Regions from separate parts of the Homo sapiens genome. Here region 1 is linked to region 2. The links come from fine-mapping of genetic effects on gene expression. Tissue or cell type: whole blood. Region 2 holds a variant in brackets; the other region holds the start of a gene. All regions are shown on one strand. Distances are between the middles of the regions. Region 1 holds the start of RASGRP3 (RAS guanyl releasing protein 3). Region 2 holds the start of RASGRP3-AS1 (RASGRP3 antisense RNA 1).

Region 1 (13,873 bases), 89 kb before region 2:
CTTGATCTCCTGACCTCGTGATCCACCTGCCTCGGCCTCCCAAAGTGCTGGGATTACAGGTGTGAACCACTGTACCCAGCCACTTCAACATTATTTTATAATTGCATAGTGCCATATCTTATGAATATGTTCTAATTTATTCAACTACTTTTGGCACCTAGATGTTTTTCTAATATTTTCTTAGTATAAGTAATGCTGCGTGAAATATCCTTATACATATGCAATCCATATTCTTTTCTTAGGATATATTTCTAGAACAGGAACTGCTGAGTTAAAGGGTATTCACATTTTAAAAAGCTTTTGACATACATTACAAAATTATCTTCCTCCTATGTTGTACGATTTATATTCTTTCTGGTAGAGTATGAAGGTGCCATTTTCCAAACCTCCTGCCAACACTGAGAATTTTCGTTTTTTCATCTTTGTCAAGTTTATAGATAATAAATTGTATCTTATCGTTGTTTAATGTATACTCCTTTTTTAGGGAAGCTGACTTTTTCATGTGTAGATTGGTCATTTATGTTTCTTCCCTTGTGAACTATTTATTAATATCCAGTTGTTAATTGTAAATGCTATTTATATGTTAAGACCATTAACCCTTTACCATACGTATTTCACTTTTGAATCTCATTTTATTATTTGTAGGTTAATTTTGATTACCGTTGGATTATATTTTACATATATGTTTTATATTTTATGGTTTAAATCGTGAACTTTTATCTTTATAGCTCCTTCTGTTGTGACTGTGATTGAAACGTTTTCAGGACAAAAGTATTTAATCATGATTAAAACAATTTTAAGATTATAAAACCAATCATGTGATTCTCTTCAAGTTTGTATGTGATTTTTTTTTTTTTTTTGACATGGAGTCTCATTCTGTTACCCAGGCTGAGTGCAGTGGCGCGATCTTGACTCACTGCAACCTCCACCTCCTGGGCTCAAGTGATTCTCCTGCCTCAGCCTCCCTAGTAGCTGAGACTACAGATATGGGCCACCATGCCCAGCTAATTTTTTATATTTTTGGTAGAGAAGGGGTTTCACCATGTTGCCCAGGCTGGTCTCAAACTCCTGACCTTAGATGATCTGCCCACCTCGGCCTCCCAAAGTGCTGGGTTTACAGGCATGAGCCACCGTGCTGCTGTACAGCGTTTTTATGTTTAACTCTTTAGTCTAACATGCTTTTACTTTGTGTATGGCATGAAGTAATGATTGCATCTTAATTTTTCCGAATAGTTAATGATTTAACCTGTTTTTGAATAGTTTATTCTTTTCCCACTGGGTTTAAAAACCATATTGAACAAATACAATAAACATTTTACTGTAGTTCTTCTATGTGTATTTCTGGGCTTTTGGCTCTGTTCCATTGCTCTAGTTCTTTTGGCACTAGTACCAAACTTTAAATTCACGTTATTTTTAGCCTATTTAGTACCTAATATCTCCCTTGTGGTTCTTTTCTAAAATTTTCTTTACCATTCTCAGTTTTTTATTCTTTAAAATAAACTTGAGGATTTTTGACCTGTTTGAAAAATTTATTTGGGATTTTAAGCAAAATTTGATTATATTTATAAATTAATTTGAGGGAGAATTAATATATTTACAATGTTAAGTTTTCCAGTACAGAAAAACTTTCCAATACAGAAATGTATCAAACTGTTTTTAATTTTCTCAGTAAAGTTACATTTTTAAATAGGTTATTCACTTTTTTTATTCCTAGAAATGTTATTGTTGTTGTTGCTATTATAAATAATACTATAACTAAGAATTTTTTTTTTTTTTTTTGAGATGGAGTCTCACTCTGTTGCCCAGGCTGGAGTGCAGTGGCGCGATCTCAGCTCACTGCAAGCTCCGCCTGACGGGTTCACGCCATTTTCCTGCCTCAGCCTCCCGAGTAGCTGGGACTACAGGCGCCCGCCACCATGCCCGGCTAATTTTTTGTATTTTTAGTAGAGACAGGGTTTCACCGTGTTAGCCAGGATAGTCTCGATCTCCTGACCTTGTGATCCACCCTCCTCGGCCTCCCAAAGTGCTGGGATTATGGGTGTGAGCCACCACGCCCGGCCAAGAATTATTTTCTATTATGTTTTCTAAGTTTTTGTGGGTTATATGGAAAATTTCATATATTTCTGTATAATTGTTCCGTGGCCAGAACAATTAATTTTGTATACTTATTTTGTATATTTATTTGTAACTGTTCACCTCACTTTTTAATTATTTAGAAGCAAATTTTAGTTTGTTCTATTGAGAAAATGAATATTACTCAATCTGCAGGTTGAATACTTTTGTCTCCATTTTTCTCATAAAATTCTTCTTTAGTTTCTTTTTCTTGCCTGGTTGCAGTGGCTCAAATGTCTAGAACAGTGTTAAATGGATGGTAGTGATAATGAGCATGCTTTTCTTGTTTCTGATTTTAACATTAATACTTCCAGTATTTTACCATTAAGTATGATGCCTATGTTTGATTTGAGATTTGAATTAACATGAGTATCATGTTAAGAATCAGTCTTTTAATTTTGTTTTATTAATTAAAAAATTGATATTGAATTTTATCAAATGATTTTTCAAGATTATTGTGGCAATCCAAAAGTTTTTCTCTGTTGCCCAGTCTGGAGTGCAGTGGTGTGATCATACCTTACTGCAGCTTTGATCCCCTAGGCTCAAGTGATCCTCCTGCCTCATCCTCCCAGGTTGGTAGGACTATAGGCATCTGCCATCACACTGGGCTATTTTTTTTTTTTTTTTTTTTTGTAGAGATGGAGTCTCGCTATGTTGCCCCTGCTGATCTCAAACTCCTGGCTTCAGGTGATCCTGCCACCTTGGCCTCCCAAAGCACTGGGGTTACAGGGGTGAGCCACTATTCCCAGCCTTATTTTTTACATCTTTAGGGCAACCTATGTTTACGTATGAAGTTAGTCTGTGGTTTTCTTTATTATGCTTTATCAGTTTTTTTTTTTAAGACAGGGTATTATGTTAGCTTTCTGTTACTTTTGTCCACTTGAACACTTCATATACCATGGGAGTTAATTCTGCTTGAAGCTCAGTTAGAACTTGATTGTGTAAGTAATCTGAACTAAGAGCTTTTTTTGGAAATAATTCCTTATTAACTTTTACATTTTTCCATGGTTACTGATCTGTTGTTTTTTGACTTCTTCCTGGGTCAGTTTGCTTCTAATTATTATTTTGGCTATGTCTCCCAATATTTGATATGTGGTATTCTCATCACTGAAACCTTCTAAGCATTCATTCTGTAATTGTGTTTTTAATTTATTCTCCAATCAATGATTTTTTTTTTTAAGAACTCTAAAGTTTCCCCAAGAGCGTGGGGTCTTTTTGACTTACACTTTTGTAATTAATGTATAGTTTTATTACAGTGTGATCACAGAATATGGCCAATTTCTTTTGGAAAGAAATTACTTACAATTTTTTTTTGGTAGCCTAATATAAAATCAAGTTTTGCAAACTTTTCTTATATTTTTTTCTTAATGGGCTAGACAGAAGATCCTTCTCTTTAATTATTCATTTATTCATCGAGGATTGTTTCCACCATGTGTCTCATACATGCCAGGCATTGTATTAGGCATTGCAGGATATAAAATAAGTCATAAGCTTTGTCTTAGATTGGTAAAGTTTGGATGGAACACAGACACATGTAGACCTAATTATAATACAGAAAGAAATGCAACCGCAGCGAAATGTACAAAAGCAGCAGGCAGCTAGAGTGGGAGTGAAGCCCTGAAGGTTCTGGGAATACAAAGTTGCCTACGATGGCCCGGAGGGGCTTTCAGTCCTAGCGTGTAAAACATACATTGAGATCAGAGACAGGCTTTTTGGAGGCAAGGTGATTAATTAGGAAATCACCGCAGACCTTCAGTAATAAATCAGAACATATGAGGGGCGGTAAGAGTGCAAGATGAGAAGAGAGGATTTTCACACCTAAGGGGCAGATAGCGGAAGAGAAGCCCAGACCTGAGGATGAAGGAGGTAGTAGTAAAATTTTATAGACGCCATGGGAGAGCTTTTCAAGGGGTGGTTGGTCAGTTGGGACAAATAGAGCCAAAAGGTCAAGTAAGATGGCTCACGCCTGTAATCCCAGCACTTTGGGAGGCTGAGGCGGGCAGATCACGAGGTCAGGTGTTCGGGACCATCCTGGCCAACATGGTGAAACCCCGTCTCTACTAAAAACATGAAAATTGCCGGGCGCGGTGGGTCACGCCTATAATCCCAGCACTTTGGTGACAGAGCAAGACTCCGTCTCAAAAAAAAAAAAAAAAAAGCAAAAAGTGTCGGTTGCCTTTGGTCTTTGGGGACTTGGAAAGAGCAGTTTCAGTGAAGTGAGGGAAAAAAAGCCAAGCCACAAGTAGGTTGAGAGTAAATGGGATGTGAGATGGTGAAGACAAGTATTTTTTCAGGAGTTTAGTTGTGGAGGGAATGCAGGAGTTAGGGCAGTAATTAAAAGAGCAAGTCTGGCTGGGGGCAGTGGCTCACGCCTGTAATCCCAGCACTTTGGGAGGCCAAGGTGGGCAGATCATGAGGTCAGGAGATGGAGACCATCCTGGCTAACATGGTGAAACCCCATGTTACTACTAAAAATACATGTCTCTACTAAAAATACAAAAAATTAGCTGGGCGTGGTGGCGGGTGCCTATAGTCCCAGCTACTCAGGAGGCTGAGGCAGGAGAATGGCTTGAACCTGGGAGACGGAGCTTGCAGTGAGCCGAGATCGCGCCACCACACTCCAGCCTGGGCAACACAGTGAGACTCCGTCTCAAAAAAAAAAGCAAAAAATCAGAAAGACTGTTGTTAGGATATAAAGACAATGTGAGAACGTGAGCATGTTTAGCTAATGAGCGCACGCTGAGAGCAAGAGAAGGCGTGGTTGTTGTCGAGAGTCCTAAGCAGGTGGGAGACACAGGGTGAGACACAAAGCCGAGGTAGGAGGTGGCCTCTTGACAGGAAGAGGGCACCTCTTCTTGAGTCGAAGACAATGCTTGGAACTGGTAGGGAGTGTGGGCAGAAAGATGGGATCTCCCCCATTTCTTTGCAAGGCTGTGTTATTGTAGAACCTTTAGTCACACTCCTGGACTCTGACTGAAAGGGTCCTGGGTCTTGGCCTCTGTGTTAACAGTTTGCTTCATAGGGAGGATTGAGGATCCATCCCTTCCTCTCCTGGCTATAGAACTAGAAAAGAACCTCTACACCAGTGGTCCCTAATGTATTTGGCACCAGGGACCAGTTTCATGGAAGACAATTTTTCCATGGACCGGGAATGAGGGGATGGAGATGATTTCAGGATGAAACTGTTCCACCTCAGATCATCAGGCATTAGACTCTCATAAGGAGCATGCAGTGTAGATCCCTCGCGTGCACAGTTCACAATAGTGTTCATGCTCCTATGGGAATCTAATGCCACAGCTGATCTGACAGGAGGCAGAGCTCAGATGGTCATGCTCCCTTGACTGCTGCTCACCTCCTGCTGTGCAGCCTGGCCTCTAACAGACCATGGACAGGTACCTGTCCATGGCATGGGGGCTGGGGACTCCTGCTTTACACTTATGATGTAGTTTGGATGTTGTGCCCACCCAAATCTCATGTTGAGATGTAATTTCCAGTGTTGGAGGTGGAGCCTGGTGGGAAGTGATTGGATCTTAGGGGCAGATTTCTCATTAATGGTTTGGTACCATCCTGTTAGTGCTGTTCTCATGATAGTGAGTGAGTTCTTTTATTTATTTGTTTATTTTAAGACAGAGTCTCACTCTGTTGCCCAGGCTGGAGTGCAGTGCAGTGGTGCGGTCTTGATCTTGGCTCACTGCAACCTCTGCCTCCCAGGTTCAAGCACACCACCACGCCCGGCTAATTTTTGTATTTTTAGTAGAGACAGGGTTTTGCCATGTTGGCCAGGCTGGTCTCAAACTCCTGACCTCAGGTGATTCACCCTCCTCAGCCTCCCAAAGTGCTGGGATTATAGGCATGAGCCACAACACCCAGCTGATAGTGAGTTCTGGCAAGCGCTGGTCATTTAGAAGTGCCCCCTGTCTGTCTTGCTGCTGCTCTGGCCATGTGACTCATCTGCTCCCACTTTGCCTTCCACCATGATTGTAAGTTTCACGAGGCCTCCCCAGAAGCCGAACAGATGCCAGTATCATGCTTCCTCCATAGCCTGCAGAACCATGAACCAATTAAACCTCTTTTCTTTATAAATTACCCAGTCTCAAGTATTTATAGCAATGCAAGAATGGACTAATACAACTTAACTTTCCTGAGGCTGTTGTCGCTGTTGGGCATTGAAGAGTTTCTAGAAGTCCCTGTTTCTTTATGTGGCATGCAATGGATCATCAGAATAATTAACCCAGTCAATGGTAAACAAAGTGATGGATGGATGCCATCAGATCACAAAAGTTTCTATTACTGTAAATACAAGGGGGTAAGTAAATCAAAATAATGTTTCAAATCCTCAGTAGGCCTCTTTTTCTGTTTCTAATTGAAGATTGTCACATCAACACATAAACAAAAATGCCTGTGAGGGAAATGTGTATTTTATGCATTGCATTTTTATATCTGAAGTTTATTTCTATTACTAACTTGAAATGCTGAGGAAGGGATTTGTTTTGGTGCTTACAAAATTCTCCCATTTGCTCTTCGGACTCTCACAAGTTGACAACAAATTACTGCCCTGATAGTATGGTGAGACTGAGGGTTTTTTGTCTTTTTCTCTTATTCTAGAAAACACTGTATCCTCTATATGGAGGGAAATTTCTGGTTTGATTAACACTGTAAATAATTATGAGACAAAGCCTAAATATAAAAGATTACTCACACAGGCTCTTACACTGAGTAAGATATTATGTGTTAAAAATCAGGGTTAATAGTTTAACAGGCACATTATGGTTCAGAAATCCCCTGGGGGACTTCAACCATCTTTTCTGGATGTTCACTTTGCCAAATAGGCTGCCTCTATGTCATATCTCTACCTGAAGGGCAGGCTCAGACACTGATTCGGGGAAGTGTCACCCTTACTATACCAAGAAGTCAGACATCCAAGGTCAGACACTACGTAAAGTCAGATACTTCAAGGGCTTTCCTTGGAAGGGAGGATGAAAAGGGAAGGGTGGGAACATCAGCTCAGGTGAGACATATGAATTCAACAAAACATCAGGGATGGTTTGCCACGTTTGCGAGCAGCACAGAAAACGGCAGTTTGCTCCAAGTTCCCAGCACACCAAAGGGGGCAGTAGTGCGTCTGTAAAGCGCGTTGTCAACTTGGTGATAATTTCTGTTTGCATTCACACTCGCCGGCTGATAATCTCAGCTGCTCGATGCAATTCAACAGATAACAATGCGGAAGTTTGGTCTAAAGCTACCTGAAATCACTTCCAAGAGCTCTTCAGATAAAGCTGCCTTTGATAGTCTTCATTAACCCCTCCCATATTTGCCCCTCAGCGTCCCTTGGCTTAGCAGCCCCGGCCTTTGAAGTCCAACCTAAGCATTCTTAGATGGTGAGTGAGGGTCTGCCTTCCCCAGCACCAGCCACCTAGTCAGGCTTGTGGCTCGTCTAACAAACTGGAGCCTGAGATTCTGAGAAAACGAAACCAAACAGTTGTACTCCGGGGTTAACACAGAGCAACTTCCACCTGCTGTGCGAGTTGGTGATCCTCTCTCTTGCCGTTCGAGAGCCCCAGTGAAACTTGAGTGAGATGAGAGAGCATGGAGCCTGCCAGTCTCCCCCTCTGCGCACACACACACGCAAACACATTTAACTTTCCACTTGCAGTGACCTGCCCTTCAGTGTGACTTATCAGCTGTTTGGCTTTTGTCACTAAAGGAAAACAAATTGTGGAATATCCCGCTCTGCATGCTCATGAGATGGCTGAGCCAACTCAGGGGTTATGAGGTGGTTTGCGAGTGAGGAGAAGAATGATCTTCAGTTTCTGACCTCCTGGCACGGTGGCGGGCGGTATTTATCAGGAGGTACATGTGACTGGTTAAGACTCAGAGCCCCAGCTTGAAGGAAACAGCTGCTCTCGGCGTGCTCCGGCACTTGGCAGCTGGACAGGCAGAGTGCTGATGTGAAAAATACCACGACAAAACCACCCTAGTAAGTAACTGGAGAACTTTCCTCTCTCTCTCTCTCTTTCATTCCCTCTCCGTGTGTGTGTGTGTGTGTGTGTGTGTGTGTGTGTGTGTTGCAAGCCACCAACAACTTTTGATTTTGATTTTGGTTTCCCTCTGGCACGATAGAAGGAGATATTTTATTTGTACCTGTTAACAGCCATTGGTGTTTTCACAGCCCTTTTTTAGAACCTGTTATTTTCGGCAACGTGTCTTGTAACTTTGAGGATGAATGGGGCATATGGCTTCATTCCTGTCTAGGAAACAGAAAGTTTGTTTCCCAGTGTTCAAGATTTTTCTAGTCCATGGTGTTTAGGTTCAAAGTCAAGTTCAGGTTATGAAGTAGAGACTTCATTGAAGTGAGTTGATGACTAGATTTGATTTTAATCTGTTTCTACCACTGAAACCTGAAAACGTAGTTGTTTAAAGTAACTTGTGAATTTATTGTATGGCTGATTTGATTTTTCCTATTCAATTTTTGAGAATATCTCATTTAACTGTGTAGAACTGTCTGCAATATAGAAGACTGACAAAATAATATTTAGATTCACATTAGAAATCATATTTAGATTTCTTGCATGGTTTCCAACTAATTGAAAGCTGTATTTTATAGCGACTTTTTTTCCCCCCAACAAGCTAATTCACCTTCATTACTTTAAAATGTTCAGTTGCCCCTGGTCTTCCTTCACCTTCATTACTTTAAAATGTTCGGTTGCCGCTGGTCTTCCTTATTTTAGTGTTTTCGTGATACTCAGGCTGTTTTTTCCTTGTTTATGACCTGACTGGGAAAGTGCTGCCTGCAGCTGATGATTAACTCTGGGAGGCCTGGCATCCAAATTACGGAGAGAACCGGCTCCTTCTCAGGTTCATTCAGCAGTAATGGTGCTTGCGCTTGGGCGAGCAGCAAAGCAGGCACCATGCTGGAACTGAGCTGTTGTTCGGTGACTTTTGTCCTTCCTTGGTAGTCACCAGACAGAATGCTTCAGAGGAAAGGCAAAAGGGGAAAAGAGAGAGGGCAGAGCTCTAAACTGATGACGTAAAGCTCTGAAAGTGACAGGTCTTTGAATCAGAGGCTGCAGGGAGATAACCAAACAGGTTCCTGTTTCTGGAGATCGCGTGGATCTTGAGGAGGGTGGGCAGAGAGGGGCTGTTTTTATTTGAAGTCTCACCAAATAGTTGTTTTGCTTGTGATAAGCCTAGGACAACCTGGAGTGCGCTTGTTTCCTCGTGTGACAAATGGATTCTCATACAGGCTCAAGCTATACGGTTTTCTTTCGCCCTCTGCCCCCTGCCATGAGGGAACACTGTTCTCTCCCCACCCTTACCATCCTTTGTTGTTTGTGGAGAATGGATTAAAAATGACCCAGGGCACGGCACTTCTGCGATCGAGTTTCCCTCAGCACAGTGGGTCTTGAGTACCGCACCAACCAATGTTCTCTGATGGAAGCAGTTTCGGATGCCCTGTCTAAACAAATGGCTAGTCTGACATTGAGAAGTTCTCCACCTTCTTTTCCTTCAAATGTAGAAGAATCCACAAAATGTAGAGTGGCCAATGAGGAAAAATAGTCCCAACTTCTCTGTTCCTCGGTATGGCATTTGTGTGAGGTCCTTGGGTCAGCCCGCGGCCATGTGGTCTGTGACTTCCCTGTCTGACTGCTGGGGGAGGGGGTTCCTCCTGAGTCATTCTTTAGGGAGTTTGTTCCTGGTATAGTTTCAGATTTTCCACAGGTTGATAGTGGAAGAGAACCCTCTGGTGAAATTGTGTCTCCGGAATCATCGAGCCTCCCATAATAAAATGGAATGTCTAAATGGGAGCAGTTGAATTATCCAACTGCTGTATTTTTGAGAGCCAACAGGCTCCTTTGAAAAACCCATGCCTTTTCAAAATATTAATAGCAAAATAATAAAAAATAATGATTTTACTTGCAGATAGTACATCCATTGACTCAAAGACTTTTTGACCTGGATAGGAATGATAGAATGTGCGATTTAACTCTTTCGTATCAAAGATGAGGAAACTGTAGCAAATTTATCGGAGTTACGGTGCAGAGCCAGAAGAGAGAGCTCAAGGCTTCCATCATAATTTCAACGCTAATAACAATCCCTTACTTTTATTGTGCACTTACTCTGCCAAATGATGCGCTAAACAAGTGTATTTATTTTCATAGTCTCCTCACAATAACTCTATGTGTTACATATTATTATTCCAGTTCTATAGATAGGAAACTGAGGTTCTTGACCATACGTAACACAGACAGGAGGGACACCCTTAGTTACTTGACCATATGTAACACAGACAGGAGGGACACCTGGATCTGACTGTAGAACCTGTATACATTAAAAAATAAAAGTGGAATCCCACACATTTAAATGTAAAAACTCACAACATGCAAATGAGAGTATTTCCAGCACAATATGATTACACACACAATGTGTGTTATGCCCTTTTCGAGCTCTCCATGACAGGAAGGGCTAGGTTTCCCCCTGTGACAGTCCAAGCCCAAGCTCTCTCTATAGGATCGCTGGCTGGTGGCATGTTTTTCTCTTTGAAAATAGTTCAGTGACGGTCTTGATGTTGGTAAGAACAGCAACCGGGAACTTTGTTATTAACCTCCAGCACACGGCTCCCATGCCCCTTCTGGCCTTTCCCTCCAGTTTTCCTGTCACTCCTTTCCTTTGGAGGACAGCCACTCCACCCATGCCCCACCCCAAATAGCTGGCTTAGTGTTGATAAAGCTATTATCAGACCCATCCCCTTTGCTCAGCCTGGAAGGTTGGTTGTCCGAGTAGGTTGTTGATGAATAGAAACCATGCACTCTGCCACTCTGCGCTGTTTTTTTGAGCTGTGGGTGTAAGGGGTGGGTCACGGGGCAGGGGACTAGCTGGCAGTGGTGAGGGAGGAGAGGTATGCTTTTCTTCACTGCCTGCACCTGCCATTTACCCTGAGTCCTACTTCTCCACACACCAGTTGCATATCTAAAGCTCTGACTGTCTCACGGGTGGGCCATAAACCTGTGGATTTTCTGGGTCATCAGACTTGCAGAGCCCTTAAGAAACCTGCCTCCTGAATCCTTTTAAAAATGTCATTTGGCTGTCCACATTCCTCCACTTTAGGTTAAGTGTCAAAATTAGGGTTGGAGATAATGGGAAAGAGCACCAGGTAGTATGTAATCAACAGGGAACCTTTTATTAATCAGGAGGAAAATCAAGCAAGTATGCCATGTGTGGATGTTTCTGAGGAAGTTATCAGTGTTTCTGCAAGGTCGTTCTGGCAAGATTACACATTTTGAAGATCAAGCTATTTATAGCATGAAAGAGGAATTTTTTTTTTTTTTTTTTTTGAGACAGTCTCGCTCTGTCGCCCAGGCTGGAGTGCAGTGGTGAGATCTCGGCTCACTGCAAGCTCCGCCTCCAGGATTCACACCATTCTCCTGCCTCAGCCTCCTGAGTAGCTGGGACTACAGGCGCCCGCCACCATGCCCGGCTAATTTTTTTGTATTTTTAGTAGAGACGGGGTTTCACTGTGTTAGCCAGGATGCTCTCGATCTCCTGACCTGGTGATCCACCCGCCTCGGCCTCCCAAAGTGCTGGGATTACAGGCGTGAGCCACTGCGCCCAGCCCGCATGAAAGAAGAATTTTTAATCTTTAATTCCACCTGCCTGCTGCCTCTAAAACTAAGCCCAACTCAGTAGTAGTCAGTGATGTGGTTTGCTAGACCAAAACCACTGGGAATTGCCTCCAATCCTTGCTAGGAATTGCTCACTTCTGTAGAAATTGGCTTTGTACAGGGGGTGTTATATGGGTACACGTGAAGTGGACTCAGAATCACGACAGAGTCCACAAGTCATACTCTGGAGCTGATTTGAAAGAAAATAAAATGCTTGATTCGTTTTGGGGTCCTTTTACAATAAGGAAACACATTCTGGGATACAATGCCTATTTTGTTTCTTTGTTTTTGCCCAATTGTGTGTTTCAAAGACATCTGCTTCCAAAAAGTTAACTTTCCTGGATCCTCCTTTCCCTTGGTATTGATTGCTCACTTATAGTCCCTGGAGTTAACAGCTCCTGTGTCATGTTTCCACTGCTCTATGGGATTTGAAGTCTTTGGATTTTTTTGCTGTTTCAAGTGATTATTATAGCTTCAGAGTCTGTGGTGTGCAGAGTCGCTGTGCTTTGATCTTTGAGCTCATCTTTGGTATTGAGAAGTCGAACCCCTGCATTTATATATGCCGGCATAAGGCACTTTCTTGTACCTTGCCATAATCCCATGAAAGAGGGAGGGTATCATCACCATTGTTTTCAAAGAGGAAATAGAGGACGAGAGAAAATGAGTGACTTGTCTATGGTCATGGGAAAAGTAACTGTCAGAGCTCAACTATATCTCTTGTCTACTGACTCCAAGTGCCAGGCTTTTTCTGTTGGTTATGCTATCTTTCTTTTGTTTTGTTTTTGTTTTTCAGATGGAGTTTCACTCTGTCGCCCAGGCTGGAGTGCAGTGGCACGATCTCGGCTCACTGCAAGCTCCGCCTCCCGGGTTCACACCATTCTTCTGCCTCAGCCTCCCGAGTAGCTGGGACTACAGGTGCCCACCACCACGCCTGGCTAATTTTTTTGTATTTTTAATAGAGACGGGGTTTCATCATGTTAGCAGGATGGTCTCGATCTCCTGACCTGGTGATCCACCCACCTCGGCCTCCCAAAGTGCTGGGATTACAGGCATGAGCCACTGCGCCTGGCCTAGTTATGCTATCTTTCAAAGAAAGACCAATTTCAACTATTTCATGACCATGCACTTACACAATCTGTGGAATTATCTTTGGTGATAAAAAGTTGTGTAATTTGTATTCTCTTCAGATAGGCAAAGAGTGACTGGATAACCGATTTGCGACATGCCACTCATGATATTTCCAAAGCCTATGGACATTTGACTTTGGAAACAGGGTCAGCTTAGTCTTCAGACACCGTATTTGCTTAGGATAATTTTGTTTGTTTGTTTTTTCAGACAGAGTCCCACTCTGTCACCCAAGCTGGAGTGCAGTGGCACAATCTTGGCTCACTGCAACCTCTGCCTCCCAGGTTCAAGCGATTCTCTTGCCTCAGCCTCCTGAGTAGCTGGGACTACAGGCGTGCACCACCACACCCAGCTAATTTTTGTGTTTTTAGTAGAGATGGGTTTTCACCATGTTGGCCAGGCTGGTCTCGAACTCCTGACCTCAGGTGATCCACCCACCTTGGCTTCCCAAAGTGCTGGGATTATAGGCATGAGCCACTGTGCCTGGCTAGCTTAGGGTAATATTTTTTTTTTTTTTGAGATGGAGTCTCGCTTTGTCGCCCAGGCTGGAGTGCAGTGGCACAATCTCGGCTCACTGCAAGCTCCGCCTCCCAGGTTCATGCCATTCTCCTGCCTCAGCCTCCCGAGTAGCTGGGACTATAGGCGCCCGCCACCATGCCGGGCTAATTTTTTTGTATTTTTAGTAGAGACAGGGTTTCACTGTGTTAGCCAGGATGGTCTCGATTTCCTGACCTCGTGATCTGCCCGCCTGGGCCTCCCAAAGTGCTTGGATTAGAGGCGTGAGCCACCGTGCCGGGCCGCAGCTTAGGGTAATGTTTTTAAAGGAACTTAGTGATCATTTTTCTGTCTTGAAGACTCATATAGTCAAGTTGGAGTTATACCAACTATGGCATGATGTAACGTTACCTTTTAGAGACAATTTGGTTGTTTCCTGAGGTATGAAAACTGCAGTCTGCTCTTCAGTGTGCACGCTCCTT
Region 2 (13,444 bases):
GCAAAGGCAACTGACCTCTCAGGCTGGACTCTATTTACTCCCTAGGCACAATTGCTCATTAGGTCCTCAATTGCATACAGAACCAAGCTGAGCAAATCTAAGAGAATTTTCGGAACCTCAGGAAGGCAAGTGCAGACCAATGGCCTCTTTCCAGATCCTAGACACACCCCATGGGCCTGAGCTCAACTCTGAAATTCAACACAGAAACTGGGGTGGGGGAGGGGAGGGCTGACAAATCAAGTGCCACCCTGGAAACTGAATCAACATCAGACACACTAATCATCTGCGACACCCTTGGAATTTTTCAGACTGTGGAGCCAATTGTCACAAACAGTGCAAAGACCTCCTGGTTCTGGCCTGCAGGAGATTTGCCCGGGCGCCCTCCTTGAGCAGTGGTCATGGGTCACTGCCTGGAAGCCCCTCGCTGCCCCCAGGTAATGCCCTCTGCTTTCTTTGCTGCCATGGTCTCTTTCTGCTTGCCTCCTCACACTTGGACCTCATTTAGGTTCTGGGTCTAAACCCGGTCAGTCACTCTAAACGCTAAGGCCTTCTTTAGGGTGAGCAGCAGTAGCTAAACCCTTGAATCATCCTTGCTTCTCTCTGCTTTCTAGTCTCAGGAATATGTAACTTGCCTGCGGCTAATTGAGTTCTGTCCCTTGTCGGTTCCTCTAGAATGTTGCATGCCAGACTCGTGCTGTTTGCACTAACCTTGATGCTTTGCTGTCAAGCAGTCAGATGTCAAATAATCACCACCCTTTTTCACTTCCAGCGCAGGATGAGGTGTTTGAGTTCCCTGGAGTCACTGCTGGACACAGGGATTTAGACAGCAGAGCCATCACACTGGTTACAGGCTCTTCTCGCAAGATCTCTGTGAGGCTACAGAGGGCCACCACCAGCCAGGCCACCCAGACTGAACCTGTCTGGTCAGAGGCTGGCTGGGGGGACTCGGGGTCCCACACCTTCCCTAAAATGAAATCCAAGTTCCATGACAAAGCAGCAAAGGACAAAGGCTTTGCCAAATGGGAAAATGAGAAGCCCAGGGTGCATGCTGGTGTGGATGTTGTAGACCGGGGCACGGAGTTTGAACTTGACCAGGATGAAGGAGAAGAGACCAGACAGGATGGTGAGGTAAGTGCTAGGTCAACCCACAAAGAAAACCAGAAGAAGGAGGCTGAAAGTGCTGAGATGAGCGTTACAGAGGGTCTGGGGGGCAGCCTGGTAGTTCTGAAAGCAGAATGGTTGGGAATGAAGACATGTATCACTTTTAGTCTTGCCACTGCCTAGCTATGTGACCCTGGACATATGTTTCTTCTTTATGGATCTCAGTATCATGATTTAAAAAAATTGAACGAGATCAAGTTCTGAAACCTATTGAAGGCTGTCATGTGTGCGTACTGAAATGATGCCCCAGAAACCCATGACTATATATCCAAAATACCAGTACACGATACAGATCAGCTTGGTTTTCCAAGCTAGAACCAGGGCCCAGACTCAAGAAAGGCAGTAGAAGCAAAAGACTTTTAGATAAAGGAGAATTGGAAACTTTTCATTCTGCTCAAAAGAAGCTTTTGACAGCATCATGGAAAAGGGGGTGGTGAGAATCAGAGATACGAGGCCCTTGAGGATCTCTAAACCAGGCTCTGCCTCCGCATGAGCAAAATCATGCAAAGCAAAGTAGGATGCAGATGGAATTTGTTAGAGTATGCTGACACAGAAATTGATTCAAGATGGAGTTAGATAAATTTATTAGTTAACAGTCTATAGTGTATTAAGAGAAAGGATTTGAGAAAATTGGCATGATATTCCTAACATTTAAAGCAATGTCATGGAGGACAGCCATTGCCACCCTGTCGAATTGTTCTCATAAACAGAATATTGGGTTAGGCAGAGATCCTACTGGATCAAGCCAGTGCTCTTTAGTCTTATGGGTGGTCCTCCACATTCCACTCTTCAGGAGACCTAAACACACGTCTCCATACATTTCCCATGATGAGAAAAACTCCAGTGACCTTTAGCCAGAAATTCCCCTAGTTCCTTCCTCACTGAAGGCAGTGCATAAGGAGGCCACCCATTATCTCTGGTCATACAAGGTTTATTGTAAGTTTCTGCTGAAACACTTTTTTTGTTTCTATAACATCCACTTTTAAAAACAGCTTTGAGATGTAATTCATATGCCATGAAACTGACCCATTTAAAAGTATGCAATTTAGTATACTTTCAGTATGCTTTTAGTATACTCACAAAGTTGTGCAACCATCACTACAATCTAATTTTAGAACATTTTCATTATTCCAAAAAGAAATCCTACACCCACGAGCAGTCATTCTCCCCCAACTCACCCCAGCCAACTAATTTATTTTCTGTCTCTATAGATTTGCAATGCCCACTTTATTTTTAACATTTCCCCCACTGATCATCTTGACAACTGTATCAGTCCTATCCCCCTACTTCTTTTACTGGCCTAGCACAGTTCAAGCTGGGAATATAAACGAGAATAAGAGAAAGATCATGATTAGGTGTCAACAGCTCTTAACCCGAGGTCTATTTAATGGCTTTAGGGTGTTCATGACAGTACTTTATACTCCGTGTAAAATATACATGGACATATGGTCACTTCTGGGAAGAGGAGTCCATGCATTAAACAAACAGATTCTCCTGGGGGGTATGTGATCCAAAAAAGCAAAGAATCATTGTGCAAGAAGATTTTCTGGATTCCCTGTCTAGTCACCCCATACACTAACTCAGCCTGCAGAGGCTGTTTCCGTGGGTGCTGTAGCTGCCCCTGGAATGTCAGAAAAAGAGCTTCTCCAGGTAGATGGTAGGACGCCTACCAGAGTGCTCAGGATGGCGCCCACCTTGTGGGCATCTCTGAATTCAGAGGAGAACCTGCTTTTGTTTAACAAATAGTGAAATTGGCCATGAGCTCATTACTATTGGCCTCTCACAGTTCAAGTTACTTAAAAACTGTGCTTCTGAGTTAGGAGAAATTCACAGCCTGTTGGGTGTAAGACAATCAAATAGGTAAGATATCCTGATCATTAATCTCTATAAGGAAATATAAACAAGTATCTGGGTTTTTAAAAAAATTTAATTTTGTTTCCTGGAAATTGAACTTTTATATTCAAATGCTCTCTTATCCTTTCTGTGTTCTTATCTCTTTTCTTTCTTTTTTTTTTTTCTTTGAGACGGAGTCTCACTCTGTCACCCAGGGTGGAGTGCAGTGGCACAATCTTAGCTCACTGCAACCTCTGCCTCCCAGGTTCAAGCGATTCTCCTGCCTCAGCCTCCCAAGTAGCTGGGACTGCAGGCATGTGCCACCATGCCCGGCTGATTTTTGCATTTTCAATAGAGACAGGGTTTCACCATGCTGGCCAGGCTGGTCCCAAACTCCTGACCTCAGGTATTCTACCTGCCTCAAACTCCCAAAGTGCTAGGATTACAGACGTAAGCCATCGCGCCCAGCTGTGTTTTTATCTCTTAAAGCACAGGGATGGTTCACTGACCACGAGTATTTAATTTCATCTGTGCTAATTAATGAAGGACGTATGCTCTTATATGAAATGCATATATATGGTATACAGTTCCAGTACCATTCAAATCAGTAACAAATGAGATGTTTGCTCTGTTTAGGGAATAAGGAAGAAGGGAAAAAAAATGACAAAATTATACCCAGCGGTTGAATATGTAGACAAAGGAGTTTGCAAATTTAAGATTTTTTTTTTTTCTGCCAGGCAAGACCAATAAATGGCATTAGGAGCACTGACCTACACATTTATTATTTAGTATCAGATGATGTTTGTGAGTCCTGTAGTTAAAGACTTTAGAACACAGAAAAGGTACGTGTGTTTGTAATCTGTGTATTTCCTCCAACGGAGTTCCAGGATTTACGCTCATTTTAAAATATAAGGGTACGAACATTTTCTGTGGCAGTGTATGTCATCTCCCCAATGACCACTACATGTCAGAACAGTTCAAGATTACTCTCTTGGCAGTAAGAATACATGTATTTCCTTTAAACTTCTTCTTTTGTTTTCCTTTATCTTCTACTAAATTAAATTTAGTCAACAAATACTTATCATAAAAGGGTTGGGAAATGCTGACTAAATAAAATGGAATATGTTTATGAATATATGTAATATACATAGTCATACATATGTACATATACATATGTAGATTTACAGATTTTCTCAGTGCCCTCTTGCACTAATTTACACTGTGGATTTCTAAGAGGGAAACCTTTTAACAAGGACCATTTCAAGGGACTAATGATTTGTGGTACACCCTTTAAGGTCAACATCCTAGTTGGACTCCATATTGGAGTCTTTAAGAGTTCATATGCTGGGTGAACTACATGATCTCTCTCTCTTTTTTTTTTTTTTTTTTCTGAGACAAGATCTCACTGTCCCCCTGGCAGGACTGCAGTGGTACAGTCATAGCTCACCACAGCCTCGAACTCCTGGGCTCAAGTGATCCTCCCATCTCAGCCTCCCAAGTAGCTGGGACTGCAGGCATATGCCACCATACCCAGCTGGTTTTTATTTATTTTTTTGTAGAGACGGGGTCTTGCTATATTTACCAGGCTGGTCTTGAACTCCTGGCCTCAAGTGATCCTCCCACCTCAGCCTCCCAAAGCTCTGGGATTATAGGTGTGAGCCACTGCACCCAGCTACCTACATGATCTCCTAATTCCCACTAAATCCTGAGACTACAAGGTACTGATCATTTCAGATGTTCCCTCAAAGTCATCTGAAAAACTGCTTTCTAGGAACACTCTTATTTTGTTATATGAGATCCAGCCATGCAATAGGTTCCAATTTGTGTTTCAGGATGGCTGACTTCAGGCTGCGGAAACTGAAGGCAATAATGTTGGCTTTTGGAAGGGGCAAGACGAGAAACTCTGAAGAAAGCTCTGACTCTCAGGAAGTTATCTGGAAAGATACCTGGATGTTTACTGCCTTGGGACACTGTGGGATCTCCATGTTTGGACTATGGGACAGAGAATTGACCCTAACTAACTAACTATGAACTATTTATTTCCTCCTCCCCTACCCCTAGTTAAGTGCCACAAAGACTGTGTTATGTAGTCAGTACTTTTTTCTCATGTATCTTTCTCTAGACCATTTATATACGGGTGA[A/G]ATGAAAGCTTTTTTGCATGTACTTGATACTCAGTCTGTAAACTCAGACTTCGCTTTTTTTGTGAGACTATCCTTTCAATATTTTTATAAACTTTTGTGTGTGCTGTGGCAGGGAACAGTTAACAAGGAGTTTATTTAGAGGGGTTTTTTTCATTTTTTGTTTTTCTTGTTTTGTTTTGTTTTGTTTTGTTCTTCTTGGTGTGCTTTTTGGATGGGACCAGAACTTAACATTTTCCTGAGGACTAGGAAGCTCATCAGACACTGGAATGCAGTGATTCTTCTAATGATGGTCAACTGCAAGGAGAAACTGTTTACATCCTTCCCACTACACAGTTGCTATGATATGTAACAAGTCACACATGTATATATCACACAAGTCTTACCAATTCTGCGTCACTAGGAAGCTATAGCATGGTCGTGAAAGCTCTCCTAATACTTACTTAAATAGCCATGGAAGAAAATTATGCTTGTCCCTTCTGACTGGGTTAAGCCATCTTTCTTAAGATTCCTGAAGTAGAAATAGCAATTAAGAAATTAATTCAAGTTTTGACGGTTAACATTTAGCAGAAAAACAAACCATTGAATAAGCTACTAGGTGAAATGCAAAACAACCATCAATTTTTTTAAACTCAATAATTTTGTGAAAAAAAAAACCACCACCAAACTTTTGGTTGTAAAAGAGAACCCTTGTTCCCTTCCTAAGAAACTGCCTTCCACAATTAAAGAATACTCATAGAAAGAAAATAATCATAAATCATATTTGATTAACATTTCATTTAAGCTTTTAAAATATCAATTTTTTAAATAGCTCCCATTTACCCAAAATAACTAGTTATGGGTCTATTTCTTCCATGATTAGAGGAGAGAGAACTTGATTCAAGATACTGAAAAATAGAGCTGGGACTGAGCCTGTGAATGACAGGAATGATCTATTACCAGGTGACTAGTCGGAAACTACACAGACGTGCACTGGTCTGCATTTGGGGGCTAAAGTGTATATATTCCATTTAAAATGGAATTTGTTTGTATTTGGGGCAGTCTTCAGTAAAGCCTTTCTCCTTTCTTTTCTCCATTGAGGACAGTTCTGCTCAGCAAAATTGTTGAGTACCTGTTCTGGGCAGGTCCCACGCTATATGCACAAAGTTAAGAAAAACTTGGTCTTAGCCCTTGGGAGCTGACAGCCCATGGGCATTAAGGCAAAGTAGTTCCAGTGATTTAAAATACGGTTCCAAATACGCTAAAACCAACTTGTGCCAACCAGATTTACAGATTGGAAATACTGCAGATGATGTGAAGTTATCAGTTGGAGGAGCTGTGATTAAGCTGGATAATAAGAGAACGTGCCATCTGTAAAGCACTCAGAAGGCAGCCATCCCTAGATGTTGGTTTCATGTATATTACACTATCTACTACTATCCATAAATGCAATAATATGCATGTTAACAACATTAAAAACAGCAAACAGCAATCTAAGTACAGAAAAGCTTTTTGTGTGTTTAAAAAAATTGAAGAAAATTCAGGAAGAAACGTGTTAATAAACATTGTACTGTTCTTTTGCTTCTCAAAGGAATTATTCACTTGCCACTTTGGTTATTTTTGAGTTTTCGTACATAGGAAGTTTTATATTGCCAGCCTTCCTGTGATAAAGATATTAAATGTAACTTGAGTAAAAAATAAAAAAGAATAACTATGTATATACATATATAAATTACATATGGGCCTGTATATTGTGTGTGTATATACACAGTAAGTCCTCATTTGTCCATAGATTCTTGGAAACTGCTACTTTAACAACTTGAAGTTGGTCTTGAAACAACTATAACAAGACCAACTTTTTTTCTCATCAACGTTGTAATGAAAGGAAATTGAATGAAATTACCTTGTGGAGGACCAGTTTGAACACTTCATTTGACTTAAAGTTGCTATTTCCAAGAATCTACAGACCATGTTAAGTGAGGACTTACTTACTGTATACACACACACACACACACACACACACGCACACCCCCCTATTATTACTTTGCTGAAGACTAATTTAAGTCTATAACAAAACTGCCTTATAATTATGATTATATCATTTACTGACAACCAGTGACTCTGATGTTTCCAATCTATCAATTTCCCATCATCAGTAAAATAAAATAGGCAAATCCACGATGGGGCAAAAAGAACAATCACAATTGACTCCTCCTCACCTTCATTTTGTAGGTCTGATGATCACTGTCACCCTGAAAATTGAAAGGAAAAACAAAAGTAAACTCTTCTTAACAATGAAAATGAGGTATGAAGGCAGGATTTATTAAATGCTTCAATTGCATCTTCATTGGAGCATCTACAAATTGACTGATGCTTTCTCAGACCTGCCTAAACCATAGGAGCCATGATTGGTTATTTGAACCCTTGTGTTGAGTGGATATCCCTTGAAGCAATAATGTGCCCAGATTTTCATGGTAAGTTTCTACAATGGACAGAGGAGTTTGCATTTTAAAAATGAAGGCAGGACTTCTGCAGAAGAGAACGTCAAACTGTTATTGATGGTAGGAAGCTTAATTATTCCTAAGATAAATATGTGAATTTTGCCAAAATATATAAAGCTCTAGAATGACTGAGGAGATCAATTCAGTGAAACTGTACCACAAAAGTGTACCTTTAGCACGCAATTCCCAACCAGACTGAAATCTCATCTTGGCTGCTTACAGTCATGGAATCCTGGGCAAGTCAGGTACATCTATTTGAGCCCTCAATTTCTTCATTTGAAAAAAAGAGATTTCACCACCCTCTTCAACTACCTCATAGAGTTTTGGTAAAGATCAAGTCAGATAATATATGTAAAAGTATTTGTAAAGACCTTATGTTATTATTATTTTGCAATTAAGCAGGATTCTTCTCTAAAACTGTCTCAAGAGCCCAGATTTTCTCTATATTATATGGCTGTATATTTGGAGGCTCTAAACCCAATATTTAACTAAATTTTCTGTTAAAAAAAGATGTATGGTGGCTCATGCCTGTAATCCCAGCACTTTGGGAGGCCGAGGCGGGTAGATCACAAGGTCAGGAGATGGAGATCATCCTGGCTAACACGGTGAAACCCCGTCTGTAATAAAATACAAAAAAAAATTAGCCAGGCATGGTGGTGCACACCTGTAGTCCCAGCTATTTGGGAGGCTGAGGCAGGAGAATGGCGTGAACCCAGGAGGCAGAGCTCGCAGTGAGCTGAGATGGCGCCACTGCACTACAGCCTGGGCAAAAGAGCAAGACTCTGTCAAAAAAAAAAAAAAAAAAAAAGATTAAACAGAAGTATTAATGAAAATAGTCAAAAGAGATTTTCTTATTTCTGGCACTATGTGTGTGTAGGATTAGTTCTGGTTTGATTGTAACACTGACTAGTCTTGTCCTGTTTGAAAACAGGCCTGCAAGATTAAGAAACCAAATGAGTAAAATGTAAATGAGGTTAGAGAAAAATCCATATATTGGGTATACATAAATGGGATAAAATATAAATATATTCAAAAGGTTGCCTCTTAAAAAGAATTTATTAGTTTACACAGGGAGACAGGAGGAAAACCAACATTACTTTTTAAAATAAAAAGCATTTACTTGATAACTGGAATGTATTTTACAACTATTGAAGGTGGGTAAGTATAGGAAACTACTTGGCATTTAAGGCTTAATCAGGAAATGGCTTCCTCCTGGCTGCATCCAAAACCTGCTGGCCTAAGTCTAGAGAGCACTCAGACCTCAAACAAAAATGATTACTTTATCTTGTCTTTCAAAAATGTTACTAGCATATCACGTTGGAATTCATACCCATTCAGAATCTAAGTGACATGCAGTTTATCCACAGGAGCATGAAGAAGGAATTACTTGGAGTATTCTACAAAGCAACTGGCCTGAACACTTCAAAAATAAAATATCACGAACAGAAAAAGGAGGGAAAGGGCAATTTTGGATCAGAAAAGATTGAATGAAACACAACAGTGAAATGCGATGTTACAAACCTTGATTGGATTCTGGGTCAAATTTTGAAGAAAGCAGTGGCTCACGCCTATGGTCCCAGTGATTTGAGAGGCTGAGGCAGGAAGACTACTTAAACACCGGAGTTCAAGGCTGCAGCGAGCTATGATTGTACCACTGCACTCCAGCCTGGGCAACAGAGCGACACACTGTCTGGATTAAAAAAAAAAAAAAAAGAAAAGGAAAGTAAAGCAGGTATTTGGGGGACAACTGGAAAGATTTAAATATGGAGTATAGGCCGGGTGCGGTGGCTCATGCCTGTAATCCCAGCACTTTGGGAGGCCAAGGTGGGTGGATCACTAGAGGCCAGGAGTTCAAGACCAGCCTGGTCAACATGGTGAAACCCCATCTCTAGTAAAAATACAAAAATTAGCTAGGCATGGCAGCACGCACTTGTAATCCCAGTTACTCAGGAGGCTGAGGCAGGAGAATCGCTTGAACCCAGGAGGCAGAGGTTGCAAGTGAGCCAAGATCACACCACTGCACCCCAGCCTAGAGTGAGGCTTTGCCTCAAAACACACATACACACACACCAGGCGGCAGCAAATATCTTACACACACACGCACACGCACACACACCCGGCGGCAGCAAATATCCCGCTCAGAGAGAAGGGCACACTCTGAAGTGCAAATCCTCAATCTTCATTTACAACAGAAGAAACAAGGATATATTAGCTGGTGGCAGGAGCTTCCCGGGCCTGTTTGGTTCTGAGAAGCAGGAGAGCCAGGGCACACTGACAAGAAATATTTGCTAGAAGCAATCTGTCTCTGTGACAGCAGAATGCCAGAGGCTCTTTATGATGAAAAAAAACAAAAAATCCCATAGTTGCCAGTGCCCAGCAAGATGTTAAGACTAATTGAACTCACACTCAAAACCTAGGATAATAGAAATTTCACCTGGCCTGAACTCTACTCTGGTTCCTTCCCTACAGGAACTTCCCACAGATTTTGAATAAAAGCTCAAAATTAAAACAGAGGTAAAACCAAAACCAAGGGGATATGAGAAGAAAAAAAAAAAGGACAGTTAAACAGATGTCAGAAAACTCACCAGAAAACAAAATTGCTACAGAGCATATGAAAATTGTTTTTCCAAGAATTAAAGCTACTTAATGAATTCCTGACTCACAGAAATCATGGTAATAATAAATGTTTATTGTTTTATGTTATTAGGTATTAGGGTATTTTGCTACACAGCACACATGAATATAATATCCTACAAGGCAATTAAACCATAATCTTTGAGGTTATCTTCTCTACTAGACAGAAATAATTTACACCTCTACCCGATAAAAAATCTGTTGTATCTTACCCATTTTCTGGAAGTTAGAAACTGAGCCCTAATCCATAGTAAATAGTAAATGAAACAAAAATACATTCCTGTAAAGAAGGTTCCTATATCTCTGTACTATTGACATTTGGGGCCAGAGAATTCTTTGTTGGGAAGTGGGAAGGGGGCTGTCCTGTGCGCTGTAGGGTATTTAACAGCGTCCCTGGCTTCTGCCTTCTAGATACCATTAGCACTTCCTTTATAACCAAAAATGTCTTCAGACATTTCCAAATGTCCCCTAAGTGACAAAATTGCTACTGGCTGAGAACCACTGTCCATGCATCAGAGTCACCTGAAGGTTTGTTAAAGCACACATTGCTGGGCCTCATTCACAGTTTCTGATTCGGTTGGTCTGGGGTGGGGCCTGAGAACTTGCATTTCTAAGTTCCCAGGTGATGCTGGCGCTGATGATGCTAGTTGGGTACTGAACTTGAGAACTGCTTCTAGAAAGACAGATGGCTCTCAAGCAGGCTTGTCAGACACTGCTGCAGAATGACACCCGAGGACATACAGCCATCTTCTGCCTTATTTCCAGGTTTTAGGTCCCTTCTTTTTTTTTGCAATTCTTTCTAAAGAAGTGTAAGGTGAAGGCAATTCTACATAGTTATAAAGGTCCACATTACAGCAAAATTTTAATTCTTCCTAAATATCAGAGTAAATGCAAAAAACCAAAGCAAAGAGACTCTATACGAAAGTTAAAAGTTATAAAAACAGAAAACAGAACTTATATATAAGAGAACTAAGTTCAAACATCTGTTATATAAATGGGCTAAACTCACTTTTTTTTAAAGGGTACTCAGACTGATAACACCACCACCAAAAAACCCCAATTCTATGCTGTGCACAAGAGACCTGCTGTAAAGTGATTCAGGTGGCTGAAAACTTTTTTAAATGGGCAAATATATACCAAACAAACGCAAGCAGAAAGAAAACATTGATCATAAATATAGTATCACACAAAATTAAATTCAAGGCAAAAGGCACAAAAAAAGACTGGGCGCGGTGGCTCACGCCTGTAATCCCAGCACTTTGGCAGGCCGAGGCAGGCGGATCACCTGAGGTCGGGAGTTTGAGATCAGCCTGACCAACATGGAGAAACCCCATCTCTACTAAAAATACAAAATTAGCCAGGCAAGGTGGCGCATGCCTGTAATCCTAGCTACTGGGGAGGCCGAGGCAGGAGAATCACTTGAACCTGGGAGGTGGAGGTTGTGGTGAACTGAGATCGCGCCATGGCATTCCAGCCTGGGCAACAAGAGCAAAATTCTGTCTCAAAAAAAAAAAAAAAAAAAAGGCACAAAAATAGACAAAAATGGACCCAGCGCGGTGGCTCACACCTGTAATCCCAGCACTTCGGGAGGCCAAGGCAGGTGGATCACGAGGTCAGGAGATCGAGACCATCCTGGCTAACACGGTGAAACCCCGTCTGCACTAAAAATACAAAAAAATTAGCCAGGCGTGGTGGCAGGTGCCTGTAGTCCCAGCTACTCGGGAGGCTGAGGCAGGAGAATGGCGTGAACCCGGGAGGCAGAGCTTGCAGTGAGCCGAGACTGCGCCACTGCACTCCAGCCTGGGCGACAGAGCGAGAAACTCCGTCTCAAAAAAAAAAAGGAGACAAAAGTAGGCCCATTTTAATGCTAATGGATACAGATCACAATCAAAATATAATTATGAATATCTTTGTACCAAATTATAGAGCATCATCATTTACAGAACAAAAAGAATAGATGATTCAAAGATACACAGAAATATATTAGTGGTATAAAATATGTATTATCCTCTCACTCAGCTCATGATATAACCAAGTACCAAGTACACAAAAAATAAGGCGCTTAGACCTGTGCCATTCAACACGGTAACCACTAGGTACATGTGGCTAACGAGCACTTGAAATATGACTAGTCCAAATTGACAGGTGCCATAAGTACAAAATATGCCAGATTTCAAATAGCACAAAACAAAGAAGGTAAATAAGTTGTTAATAATTTTTTCTATTGATATATGTAAAATAATGGTTTTTATATAATGGGTTAAATAAAATTTCACTTTTAAAAAACTTCCTTAACACAGTTACTTTAAACTTGAAATTGAATGTGTGGCCTGTATTATATTTCAATTAAGACAGTGATGCTGCTCTAGAACTAATTAACAAGGTAGATCTAAATACTTACAACAGCTAAAACATATATAGTATTTATTCCATTCCAGACACTGTTCAAGATATTTTGCACATATTAATGCATTGAGTCCTCTCAACACCCTAAGAGGTAGATGCTATTATTATAGCCATTAGCCATTTTACGGATGAAGAAACTGAGGCACAGAGAAATGAAGTAATTTGCATAAGATCACAGTAGTGAATCTGACGTTTGGTTCTCATCAATCTGGCTCCAGAGTCTGTACTCTAAACCATGATGCTACAATTGATAAATGTGCATAGTGAACTCTGTCCTTTGAAAACAAAGATACATCTCCTGTTCCATCTTCAGTAAGACAGCCACAAAAATTGACCACAGATTAGGCCACAAGAGAAATATCAAGTTTCAATCCTGCGAAATAATACAGAGGAAATTATGCTGTAATGCCATAAAATTAGAACTTGAGAGCAAAACTAGAAAAATGAAGTAGCTAAAGTTCAGAAATGAAAACAAAACAACACAAAACCTACCTCTTCTAAAGAACTCTTGAATAAGAGAGGAAATCAAAGTCTAGCAAATGATCATGAAAATACAGATCAGAATAACTACAAGATTCAGCCTCAGCACTACTCAGAGAAAAAGTTTTAGTCTTAAATACGTTCATAGACAAGAAAGAGTACAAATAAATGGCTAAACTTCTCAAATCCAAGCCAAAAAATAAAAACCACAAGTGAATAATTTTCTAGGAAATTATAATTTACAAAAACTGATCTAAGAATTAAAAAAAAAAAAAAGGCCAGACATGGTGGCTCACGCCTGTAATCCTAGCA

The links. PIP is the estimated chance that this variant, and not a neighbour inherited with it, causes the effect.
Region 1: RASGRP3 starts here. The variant in region 2 is fine-mapped to the expression of RASGRP3 in whole blood (TOPMed, PIP above 0.99).

The regions. Positions count from the first base shown.
Region 1 is chr2:33,468,619-33,482,491 of GRCh38, forward strand. RASGRP3 (RAS guanyl releasing protein 3) reads left to right here and starts at 8,031. Exons shown (of 18, transcript NM_001139488.2): 1 at 8,031-8,089. RefSeq lists enhancers at 7,367-7,686, 11,147-11,316.
Region 2 is chr2:33,557,903-33,571,346 of GRCh38, forward strand. It overlaps RASGRP3 (RAS guanyl releasing protein 3), which reads left to right. Exons shown (of 18, transcript NM_001139488.2): 16 at 309-434; 17 at 770-1,128; 18 at 4,827-6,829. The coding sequence ends at 4,835. RASGRP3-AS1 (RASGRP3 antisense RNA 1) reads right to left here and starts at 11,528. Exons shown (of 4, transcript NR_146505.1): 1 at 9,134-11,528; 2 at 7,331-7,363; 3 at 5,576-5,643. The variant A/G (reference allele first, on the strand shown) is at 5,136.